Linked DNA regions of Homo sapiens: region 2 is linked to region 1. A link means that fine-mapping ties the variant in region 1 to the expression of a gene that starts in the linked region. Tissue or cell type: skeletal muscle. Region 1 holds a variant in brackets; the other region holds the start of a gene. All regions are shown on one strand. Distances are from middle to middle. Region 1 overlaps DIXDC1 (DIX domain containing 1). Region 2 holds the start of HSPB2 (heat shock protein family B (small) member 2).

Evidence for each region. PIP is the estimated chance that this variant, and not a neighbour inherited with it, causes the effect. A credible set is the group of variants that fine-mapping cannot tell apart.
Region 2: it holds the start of HSPB2, and the variant in region 1 is the best candidate, but not a certain one, in a credible set for the expression of HSPB2 in skeletal muscle (FUSION, PIP 0.63).

Annotation. Positions count from the first base shown.
Region 1 is chr11:111,949,092-111,954,469 of GRCh38, reverse strand. All of the region lies in intron 1 of DIXDC1 (DIX domain containing 1), which reads right to left. Among named protein-coding and RNA genes, the nearest start is that of DIXDC1, 14 kb to the right of the region's middle. The variant G/AG (reference allele first, on the strand shown) is at 2,601.
Region 2 is chr11:111,910,654-111,916,031 of GRCh38, reverse strand. HSPB2 (heat shock protein family B (small) member 2) reads right to left here and starts at 3,298. Exons shown (of 2, transcript NM_001541.4): 1 at 3,109-3,298; 2 at 1,939-2,591. The coding sequence starts at 3,202. The coding sequence ends at 2,137. It overlaps CRYAB (crystallin alpha B), which reads left to right and starts at 4,262. Exons shown (of 3, transcript NM_001289808.2): 1 at 4,262-4,508. The coding sequence starts at 4,308. HSPB2-C11orf52 (HSPB2-C11orf52 readthrough (NMD candidate)) reads right to left here and starts at 3,296. Exons shown (of 5, transcript NR_037651.1): 1 at 3,109-3,296. RefSeq lists an enhancer at 1,894-2,547.

The DNA.
Region 1 (5,378 bases):
TGTAATAGTTTAGGACAGGCATCTGGTCCATGGCCTGTTAGCAACCGGGCCACAGAGTGAAGCTTCATCTGTATTTACAGCTGCTCCCCATTGCTCACATTACCACCTGACCTCCGCCTCACTTCAGATCAGCGGTGGGATTAGATTCTCATGGGAATGGGAACCCTATTGTGAACTGTGCATGTGAGGAATCTAGGTTGCACCCTCCTTATGAGAATCTAATGACTGATGATCTGTCACTGTCTCCCATTACCCCGAGATAGGACCATCTGGTTGCAGGAAAACAAGCTCAGGGCTCCCACTGATTCTACATTATGGTAAGTTGTATAATTATTTCATTATATATTACAATGTAATAATACAAAAATAAAGTGCACAATAAATGTAATGTGTGTGAATCACCTCAAAACCATCCCCCACCTGGTCCATGGAAAAACTGTCTTCCATGAAACCGGTCCCTGGTGCCAGAAAGGTTGGGGACCTCTGGTTTAGGGAATAATGACAAAAAAAAAAAGTCTGTAGCTACTCAGTACAGACGCGTTTCTTTTGTCAAATATTTCTGATCTGCAGTTTGTTGAATCCACAGATGCTGAAGCCATGGATACAGAACGCATGGATAGAGACAGCTTACTGTACAATACTTTTTGTCTTTAGCCTTACAGTACACAGCCAAAATACTGCTTCCAAAGTTACTTGGGTTAGTTCTTTCCTTTTCCACTCCTTCCACTGTGGTTATATTATTCATTTATAATACAGTTAGGTTCATCTGTTACTCTTTGTAGTTCATTTTTGGTTAGCCCCAAATTCTGGTTGATTTTATTTATTGATTGATTGATATGGAGTATCGCTCTGTCTCCAAGCTGGAGTGCAATGGTGTGATCTTGGCTCACTACAACCTCCACCTCCCGGGTTCAAGCAATTCTCCTGCCTCAGCCTCCTGAGTAGCTGGGATTACAGGCACGTGCCACCATGCCTGGCTAATTTTTTATATTTTTAGTAGAGACGGGGTTTCACCATGTTGGCCAGGCTGGTCTCAAACTCCTGACCTCAGGTGATCCGCCCACCTCGGCCTCCCAAAGTGCTGGGATTACAGGAGTGAGCCACTGTGCCCGGCCTGGTTGATTTTAATTATTTATTTTTTGGATAGATGAAAAATTAATAAGGTCCTGAAAGAGCTATTCAAAAACATAAAAAGTGTCACTCCCACATCATTCTTTCCACCGCATTCCCATGTACCTCTCCGCACCCTATCCCACATAACCAAGCTCATTAGTTTCCAGTTTATATGGAAAATAACAGATACATGTATGTTCCTTTATTTCTCTTTCTTTCTTTTGTGAAAAACCTGATAGTATTGATACTAATTTGTACTTTTCTTTCTAACTTCACTTCATTTGATTCACTTGATTTAATTCTGAAAATCACTCCAAAGTGGTTTATAGAAATCTGCCCCATTTGTTTTTTCTTTGTTTGGTTTTTGGAGACAGGGTCTTGCTCTGTTGCCCAGGCTGGAGTTCAGTGGCATGATCACAGCTCACTGCAGCCTCAACCTCCCAAGTTCAATCCATCCTCTAGTCCCATCCTCCAGAGTAGCTAAGGCCATAGTCACACGCCACCACAGCTAATTTTTGGATTTTTTTTTTTTTTTTTGAGACAAAGTCTCACGCTGTCACCCAGGCTGGAGTGTAGTGGTGTGATCTCGGCTCATTGCAACCACCGCCTCCTGGGTTCAAGCAATTCTCCTGCCTCGGCCTCCTAAGTAGCTGGGATTACAGGCACGCACCACCACAGCCGGCTAACTTTGTATTTTTAGTACAAATGGGGTTTCACCATGTTGGTCAGGCTGGTCTCGAACTCCTCACCTCATGATCTGCCTGACTTGGTCTCCCAAAGTGCTGGGATTACAGGTGTGAGCCACCAGGCCTGGCCAATTTTTGGATTTTTTTGTAGAGACAGGGTCTCACTTTGTTGCTCAGGCTAGAACTTCTGGCCTCACCTTCCTCCCACCTTGGCCTCCCAAAGTCTGGGATTACAGGTAAACTACTGCCTGTAAACCATTGCCTTAGTGTTTTCTTGACTGTTCTTGTGTATTTATTTCACCATATGAACTTTAGTGTCAATTTGTCTAACTTCCTAAAAAAGCTTCTTGGAATTTTTACTGGGATTGTATTAAACTTATAAATTAATTTAGAGAAAATTGACATATTTATGATGTTGAATCATCCTACTCAAGAACATTGTATTAGTCTGTGTTCACGCTGCTGATAAAGACATACCCGAGACTGGGAAGAAAAAGAGATTTTAAGACGGGCATGGTGGCTCATGCCTATAATCCCAGCACTTTGGGAGGCTGAGGCGGGCAGATCACTTGAGGTCAGGAGTTCAAGACCAGCCTGCCCAACATGGTGAAACCCCATCTGTACTAAAAATACAAAAATTAGCCAGGTGTGGTGGCACACACTTGTAATCCCATCTTCTCAGGAGGCTGAGGTAGGAGAACCGCTTGAACCTAGGAGGTGGAAATCGCAGCAAGCCAAGATCATGCTACTATACTCCAACCTGGGTGACAGAGTGAGACTCCATCACAAAAAAAAAAAAAA[G/AG]TTTTAATGGACTTATAGTTCCACATCACTAAGGAAGCCTCACAATCATGGCAGAAGGCAAGGAGGAGCAAGTCACATTTTACATGGATGGCAGCAGACAAAAAGAGAGACAGAGTTTGTGCAGGGAAACTCTGCCTCATAAGCCATCAGATATCGTGAGGTTTATTCACTATCATGAGAACAGCATAGGAAAGACCTGCCCCCATGATTCAATTACCTCCCATTGGGTCCCACAACACGTGGGAATTCAAGAAGAGATTTGGGTGGGGACATAGCCAAACTATATGATTTTGGGGCCCCTGGCCACTCCCAAATCTCATGGATATTCATAAATAATATTAGTCTGTAGTTTTTTTTTGCACCATCTCTATAATGTTTAGATATAAATATTACATTTCATAAAAACTTTTAGGAAAGTCTTCATTTTCTTTTTTTAATTTTTGATTTTTATAGGTATACAGTAGGTGTACATATTTATGGGTTTTCCTTCATTGTCAATGCTCTGAAATAATTTACACAACATTGTGTCCATCTGATATTTGAAGGTTTAGTAGAATTACCCATGAGATAATCTGGGCCTGTACTTTTTTGAGGAATAATTCCTTAATAGGGTTCTCTAATTCTTCTATAGAAATTGGTTTGTTTAAACTTCCATTTTCTATCAATTTTGGTAATCAGTATTTACCTAAGAAATTATCCATTTCATCAAAGTTTTTGAATGTATTTGCACAGAGGACTGCAAAGTCTGTTGTAATTACTTTTTCTGTTTCAGTGGCTATTTTTCTATTGTCATTTCTTATTTTGTGTATTTGTATTTCTCCCTTTTTTTTCTTATTTATGCTAGCTAGTAGTTTGTCTATTTTGGTAATTTATTTTAAAAAACCTTAAAAGCAAACTGGTTTGAAGAATTACTGCTATTCCACAGAAGGGTGACTATAGGCAGCAATAATATTGTACATTTTAAAGTAACTAAAAGTATAATTAGGTTATTTGTAACACAAAGAAAGGATAAATGTTTGTGGTGATGGATACCCCATTTACACTGATATGATTATTATACATCATAAGCCTATATCACAATACCTCATGTACCCCATAAATATATACACCTACTGGTTGGGCACAGTGGCTCACGCCTATGATCCCAGCACTTTGGGAGGCTGAGGCAGGTGGATAAGCTGAGGTCAGGAGTTCAAGACCAGTCTGGCCAACATGGTGAAACCCTGTCTCTACTAAAAATACAAAAATTAGCTGGGCATGGTGGCACACGCCTGTAATCCCAGCTACTCGGGAGGCTGAGGCAGGAGAATCGCTTGAACCTGAGAGGCAGAGGTTGCAGTGAGCCAAGATCATGCCATTGCACTCCAGCCTGGGCGACAAGAGTGAAACTCTGTCTCAAAAAAAAAAAAAAAAAAAAAAAAAAAAAAAAAATATATATATATATATATATATATATATACCTACTTTGTACCCACAAAAATAAAAAAAAATAAAATAAGAAATATTGCTATTCAATCTAAGTCTCTCTAAAACTGTAATACCTAGAACCAAGCACAACACTCTAGGTATAAAACCAGATACTCAGCTTCTTCATTCAAGATATTTCATATTCTTTTCTTTTTCTTTTTTTGGGTCACATTGGTGACTCATACTAAACTGTCAACCAAAACCCCTAAATAATTTTTAACACATTTTGCTGTTAAACCATATCCCTTCCATCTTTGAGCTTGTAAAATTGGTTTTCTTGATCCACATTTGCCTTTAATAAATTTCACCTTGCTAGATTGTGTCTCAAGAGATCCTGTCATTCCATGCATTCATTTATTCAAGTCAACATATTCTTGAGTCCCTACTATCTGCCAGGCATTGTGCCAAGGTCAGTGCTTACAGGCACATAAATAACGGACACAAAGTGATTGCTGCTACAAGAGAGAAACGTTTAAAAAAAAAAGCTATTTATGCAGAGAAGGAGCAACAGGATGGAAGGCTGGAGGAATCAGGAAAAGGTCAACAGGGAAGGAGACATCTGGCTGGTTCTTTACGGATGTCTGCCAATTGCAGAGAGGACAAGGGCAGAGGTGATGGAAGGAGGAAGGGTCAGAAGACACATACTATCTTAGAGGAACAGCCAGTTGAGGGGGTAGCGTGTGGGCGGAGCAGGTGATAATGTTGGAGAAACAGGTCTGCCCACGACCACCAGCACTTAGACTAAGGCTTAATGACCTTCAACAGGAAGTGTGAAGTTGTGAAACAGGAGAGTGAAACTGTGTGACTGGCATCTTGGAATAGAAAGAACAGCATACAGATTGAAGAAGCCAACGAGGAGCCCAGGCAATAATTCAAGCAAGAGAAGATAAGCACCTAAACTGAAGCAGCACCAGTGAGCAAAGGACAAACTCCAGAAACAAGCCAGAGATGACTGATAGGATGTAGGGAGCGACAAAAAGAGGGTCCAAAATGTTGGACCCGAATGACTGGCTGGCTGGTGATGCTTTAACTGGGATGGAGAAGACATGAAGAACAAGCACTGGGAAAAGTCAATGGCTCGGTTTTGAGAGAGTCTGAGCTATTTGTAGAACACCAGAGTATAGATGTTCCACAGCCAGTTGGCAAAACACAGGTCTAGAGCCCAAGAGCTGGGGGCGGGGTGGGAGATCCATGTTTGAGAGTATCTAGATAAGTTTGCCAGTGAGATAAGTGCCATCTACCAAGCACTTACTACATGCCAGGTATTGTGCTAAGCACTTTGCTACATCCCTTATACATATATTTTTCCCT
Region 2 (5,378 bases), 38 kb after region 1:
AGAGGCTCACACCTGTAATCCCAGTACTGTGGCAGACCAAGGATAGAGGATTGCTTGAGTCCAGGAGTTCAAGACCAGCCTGGACAACAAGGCGAGACCTCATCTCCAGAAAAAGTAAAAAATTAGCCAGGCGTGGTGGCACACACCTGTAGTCCCAGCTACTCAGGAGGCTGAGGCAGGAGGATTGCTTGAGCAAGGGAGGTTGAGGCTGCAGTGAGCCATGATCATGCCACTGCACTCCATCCTGAGCAACAGAACAAGACCCTGTCTAAAAAAGAAAAGAAAGAACATGGAAACGACTACCGTGAGAAGTTCTAAGTTGTCTGTTATTCAGAATGTCCCCGAATAAGTTGATTAATAACTTTAAAAGCATTTGAATGGAGAGGGGATTTGGACTAAATCAGAAGTTTTCAAATTTCTTATAGCTAGGAAACCCTTTCCTTTAAATAAAGCTCAGTTACAAAACATATCAATGTGAAGCTATTTTGGTTGAAGTCTAAGTAGAATCCTTTTCTTATTATTTTTCTTCTCAACTAGATTCTGGAAAGTTGACAATAAAAGCTAATAGTTTTTATAATTTATATTTACAATGTATATCCCCCAAGGTGTATTACATGAGGTTTGATAAATATTTACTGAATGAATGAATGAACAGTTAAATATGTCAAATGTTATTTCTCTGGGGCATGCTTTCATTTTTAATAGACAGCAATCTTTTAACCAAAAGTCGAATTCCTCAAGTGAGTTCTGTTATCCTGGAGGTCCACAGATCCCTAAGGGGGGTATGTGAATGGGTCTTAAGAGTTGTGGGAACCTATTCAAATTGTATTGCCAAATTTGGGAGCATATGTATTTTTCTGGTAAGAGCAGCTATAGCTTTTGTCAGATTTTCAGAAGGGTCTATAACTCCCAAAAGTTAAGAAACAACCACTTAATTTAATTCAATTCAATTTAATTTTTTTGAGGCAGGGTCTCACTCTGTCACCCAGGCTGGAGTGCAGTGGCGCAATCTCAGCTCACTGCAGCTTCAACCTCCCTAGCTCATCCTCCCACCTCAGCCTCCCAAGTAGCTGGGACTACAGGCATGCACCACCATGCCTGGCTAATTTTTATTTTTTTGTAGAGACAAGGTTGCACTCTATTGCCCAGGCTGGTCTCTTACTCTTGGGCTCAAGTGATCCTCCTGCCTCGGCCTCCCAAAGTACTGGGATTACAGGTGTGAGCTGCTGCACCCAGCCAAGAAACAACTGCTTTAATGGAAGAATTGTAGGTATCTACCACAGCCTAATGAAATATGTATTTGGAGGCAGGAAGGTCTTTTGGACACTTCCCCCAAATCATGTAGCTGGATGTTCTCTTGATTGCAGAGAATAACTGAGGGGACAGACCTCAGGCTTTCCTGAATACACCGTACCCCCAGAGGATGGGAAGGTAATGGGGTTCCGTGATAATTGGAGAGGCTTTGTGTCTGTGCCCTGTGTATGCATACTCAGGCTCTCAAAATCAGTGACCATTTAAGTGGACAGACCTTAGTACATGAAAACAAAGTATTCACTCCAGGACTTTAGGCAACTCTCACCAGCCAAAAACCATTTTCCCAGCCCCTACCCAAAAAGGGCCAGACAGTCTGGAGACCCTTGTTTTTGTGTCTCTAATCACCAGCTCAGACAGTGCCCTCTGGGCTGTTTGGATGGCATATCCCTTTTCCCTCCCAGGATCACTCTCTCTTTTGTTGCATTGTGAGAAAATTATGGCTAGGAATTTGATCTGGAGCCAGAGTCAGCTTCCGGGTGTGATCTCAGCATCCAAGTGCGAGCTCAGGGTCCTATGACGTTGGGCACATCAAACTGAGGAGCTTTTTGTCTAGCTGGCTGTGACCTCCTCCCTCCCTCCCCATCCCAGCTTCCCGGCCACAGAATAGGGAGCAGTACAAACAAGGCCCTGAGATTTGGGTTTATTCAGCTCCACCCAAAACTAAACCAAGGCTATGACATGTCCCATGGGACCAAACCATACATTGTGGACCATGCACCTTTCCCTTCCCCCAAGGATGCTGCTACCTCTGGAGTGGTGGGCAGCTGCCCATATCACCTTGGGAGGTAGAGAGGGATTTGCTGGGTGCTGGGTCTGTGGCAATCAGGGCTCAACTATGGCTGCCTCCTCCTCTTCCTCTGGATCAGGAGGCGCAGGGAGCAGGGAGATGTAGACCTCATTGACCTCTGTGTCCAAATGTCGGCCACCCCGAGGTGCTTCCAGGTTTAAGATGCCATCATGGGAGAGAGCAGCTCGGACTCGCCAGGGGTCGACATCAGCAGGCAGGACATAGGTGCGGCAGAACTCTCGGGACACGAAGCCGTGGCGGTCCAGGCGCTGGGGGTGCCGGGCAGACACCTCCAGCAGGTTATCCACAGTCCTCACAGTCACCTCGTCTGGGGTAAAGTGGCTCACATCCAGAAATGCCTGGAACTTGCCCTCACTGAGCCTAAGCTCGGAGGCCCCTGCCCTGCTGCCCTCCCCAGCTGGGGCGGCCCGAGGCCGGACATAGTAGCCATGGTAGAGTGTGGGGGTCAGGATCTCTTCTGGCAGGAGGCCTAAAGGGCAGAGAGAAGGCAAGAGGCAGGATGAGGGAGGATGAGGCTGGCACAGGGGCGAAATGGGAAATCTGGAGAGGAGGGATTGGGAAGAGCAAGAGGGGAGTCAGGAGGAGTAGGGAACGGGAGGGAGGCCACACTGTAGCTAGGAGGAGAAGGCAGCTCGGAAGAGGGGAAAGAGAACGGAAAGGAAAGGGAGGAGGAGGAGGAGAAGGAGGAGGAGGGGGAGGAGGAGGAGGCACCAAACGGCCTGGGTGGATAGAAGGGGGACAAGGAGGCACACCCAGGCCGGCAAAGAGCAGGTATCAGCACTGCAAGCACCAAGTGTGTCTTGAGGTCAGCAGGAATGGGAAAGATCTCTGCTTGGAGGGGATGAGGGGTAGTCTGGGGTGGGGGGTGGCTGGTCCCAGGAGATCAGTTAAGCCCAGAGTGGGGTGGAGGCCAGCAACGTTGGGAGGTCAGCCCAGAATTTCAGGGGGTGGGGGTGGGGGGCAAGGGGGTGGTGTCTGTGCCATACCTTCTCCGAAGCGCTGCTCACCCAGGCGGCTCGGGTTGGCAAATTCGTACTCGGCGGTGGCCGGGTGGGCATGTGGCACTGAGCGGCCCGACATGGCTGCAGATGCAGCAGAAGCCCTGGTCCGAGGTGCAGCCCCAACAGGCGCAGCGCGACCCCTCCAGCTGCCCGGAGAGCCAGGGCTCGATAGGAGGTGGGGGCGGGGTCGACACCACCCAAAATAGTGCCGAGCCTCTTGGGGGGGGAGGGGCTGGGAGTGGGGGCCCTGAGTGAGAGCAACGAGGGTGTGACCAGCGCCGCCCGGACCCCTAGTCCCCTCCCCCGCACACTCTTCAGCTGTCGCAGGGGGCCTGAGAGGACAGCTGAGGGTCCTGGCTGGGAACGAGCTGGGGAGGGGGAGCTGGTGGTGCCTGGGGCATGAAGAGGCCTCGCTGAGACCCTCACAAACGGTTTGCACGTTTCCACACCTCATTTTCTCCTCTTCGGTGGCAGGCACTGTGCACCCAATTCCTAAAGCACTCCTGGATTTAATGTTCTGAGAGCCACATAGAACGAAAGATGCAAGAAATCTGTTTGCTCTTTTTTCAGGGGGTGGGGTCTTTCTGCCCAGATGTGGGATCCTCTCCTAAACCCAGGTCAACCCAGGGCACGAGGCAGATGGCTGGTGCTGACATGTTGACCATCACTGCTCTCTTCCAAGGACTCACAAAGAGTTAATGTCCCTGGGGCTCAGCCTAGGAAGATTCCAGTCCCTGCCCAGGCCCAAGATAGTTGCTGGCCTGATTCCCCTGGCATTCAGGACTGGAAAGGAGGAGGAGGGGCACACTACGCCGGCTCCCATCCTCCCCCCACCCCGCGTGCCTGCTTGGGATTCCTGACTCTGTACCAGCTTCAGAGAACAGGGGTGGGGGTGGGTGCCATTGGGTGTGGACAGAAAGCTAGTGAAACAAGACCATGACAAGTCACTGGCCGGCTCAGACGTGTTTGTGTCTCTCTTTTCTTAGCTCAGTGAGTACTGGGTATGTGTCACATTGCCAAATCCCGGATCACAAGTCTCCATGAACTGCTGGTGAGCTAGGATAATAAAACCCCTGACATCACCATTCCAGAAGCTTCACAAGACTGCATATATAAGGGGCTGGCTGTAGCTGCAGCTGAAGGAGCTGACCAGCCAGCTGACCCCTCACACTCACCTAGCCACCATGGACATCGCCATCCACCACCCCTGGATCCGCCGCCCCTTCTTTCCTTTCCACTCCCCCAGCCGCCTCTTTGACCAGTTCTTCGGAGAGCACCTGTTGGAGTCTGATCTTTTCCCGACGTCTACTTCCCTGAGTCCCTTCTACCTTCGGCCACCCTCCTTCCTGCGGGCACCCAGCTGGTTTGACACTGGACTCTCAGAGGTGAGTCTCCCCACAGCTAGGACGGGAGAGTCCTTACTGGAACCTCCTGGAAACTTCTCCATCCATTTTCCTTTCCTACCCTGCCTAAACCATTTTAGGCACATGTGTGTCCAAATGTGAAGAAAAATGAGGAGGTTGCTAGTGCCTTCCTCCCCCATCACCTGTTTCTATTTGATAGTCCTCTGTATCCCATTTATTACATTTTTTCATGCACTGTCAAGTTTATCCTCCGTCCCCTAACTTCTCTACAGGATACCCCTTTCTGGTTTGGTTCATGACAATCTGCAGGGAAAGAGCTGCCTTCAAACTCCTTTGCTTATCTCTTCCAACACCTTGGACTCTTGACCGATTTTACCATCTCAGGTTTCAGAGCCAGGAGAGAGCCCTGCCTCATCCTGAGCTGTTCATCCCCATGGGTATTTTCTGCCTTTCTATTCCCTCTTCTATGATTTTCTGGGTTTCTCAGGGCTACGACAGGGCGCTGGCCTGGGTCCAATCAAGCCCTACGAGGAAACAATATAGGGACGCCCATTTGTCCTAAGAGGGTGGAAGAACAGGGTGAACAAATAAGGTTGACAGAGCTGTCACAGATAACACTCTGGTTTAAAAATATTCAAGTGTGAGTAAACAGGAGCTGAGTGGGCAAGGGCTTTGGAAGGACAAGCAGGACCAGCAGAACATTCCAGATTGGGTGGGTGGAAAACTGGCAAAGAGACCTGAGCCAGAAGAAGAGGCCTTTGTCTCACAGACAAACCACAAAGCCAGGCATTGGAGTCAGAGAGGCAGCAGATGCCAGGCTTGCACCCATCCTTGCGACTGGTCCCCTGGGTGATCTGTCTTCTTCTCTGTCCCTGTAAATAAAGTTTGGGT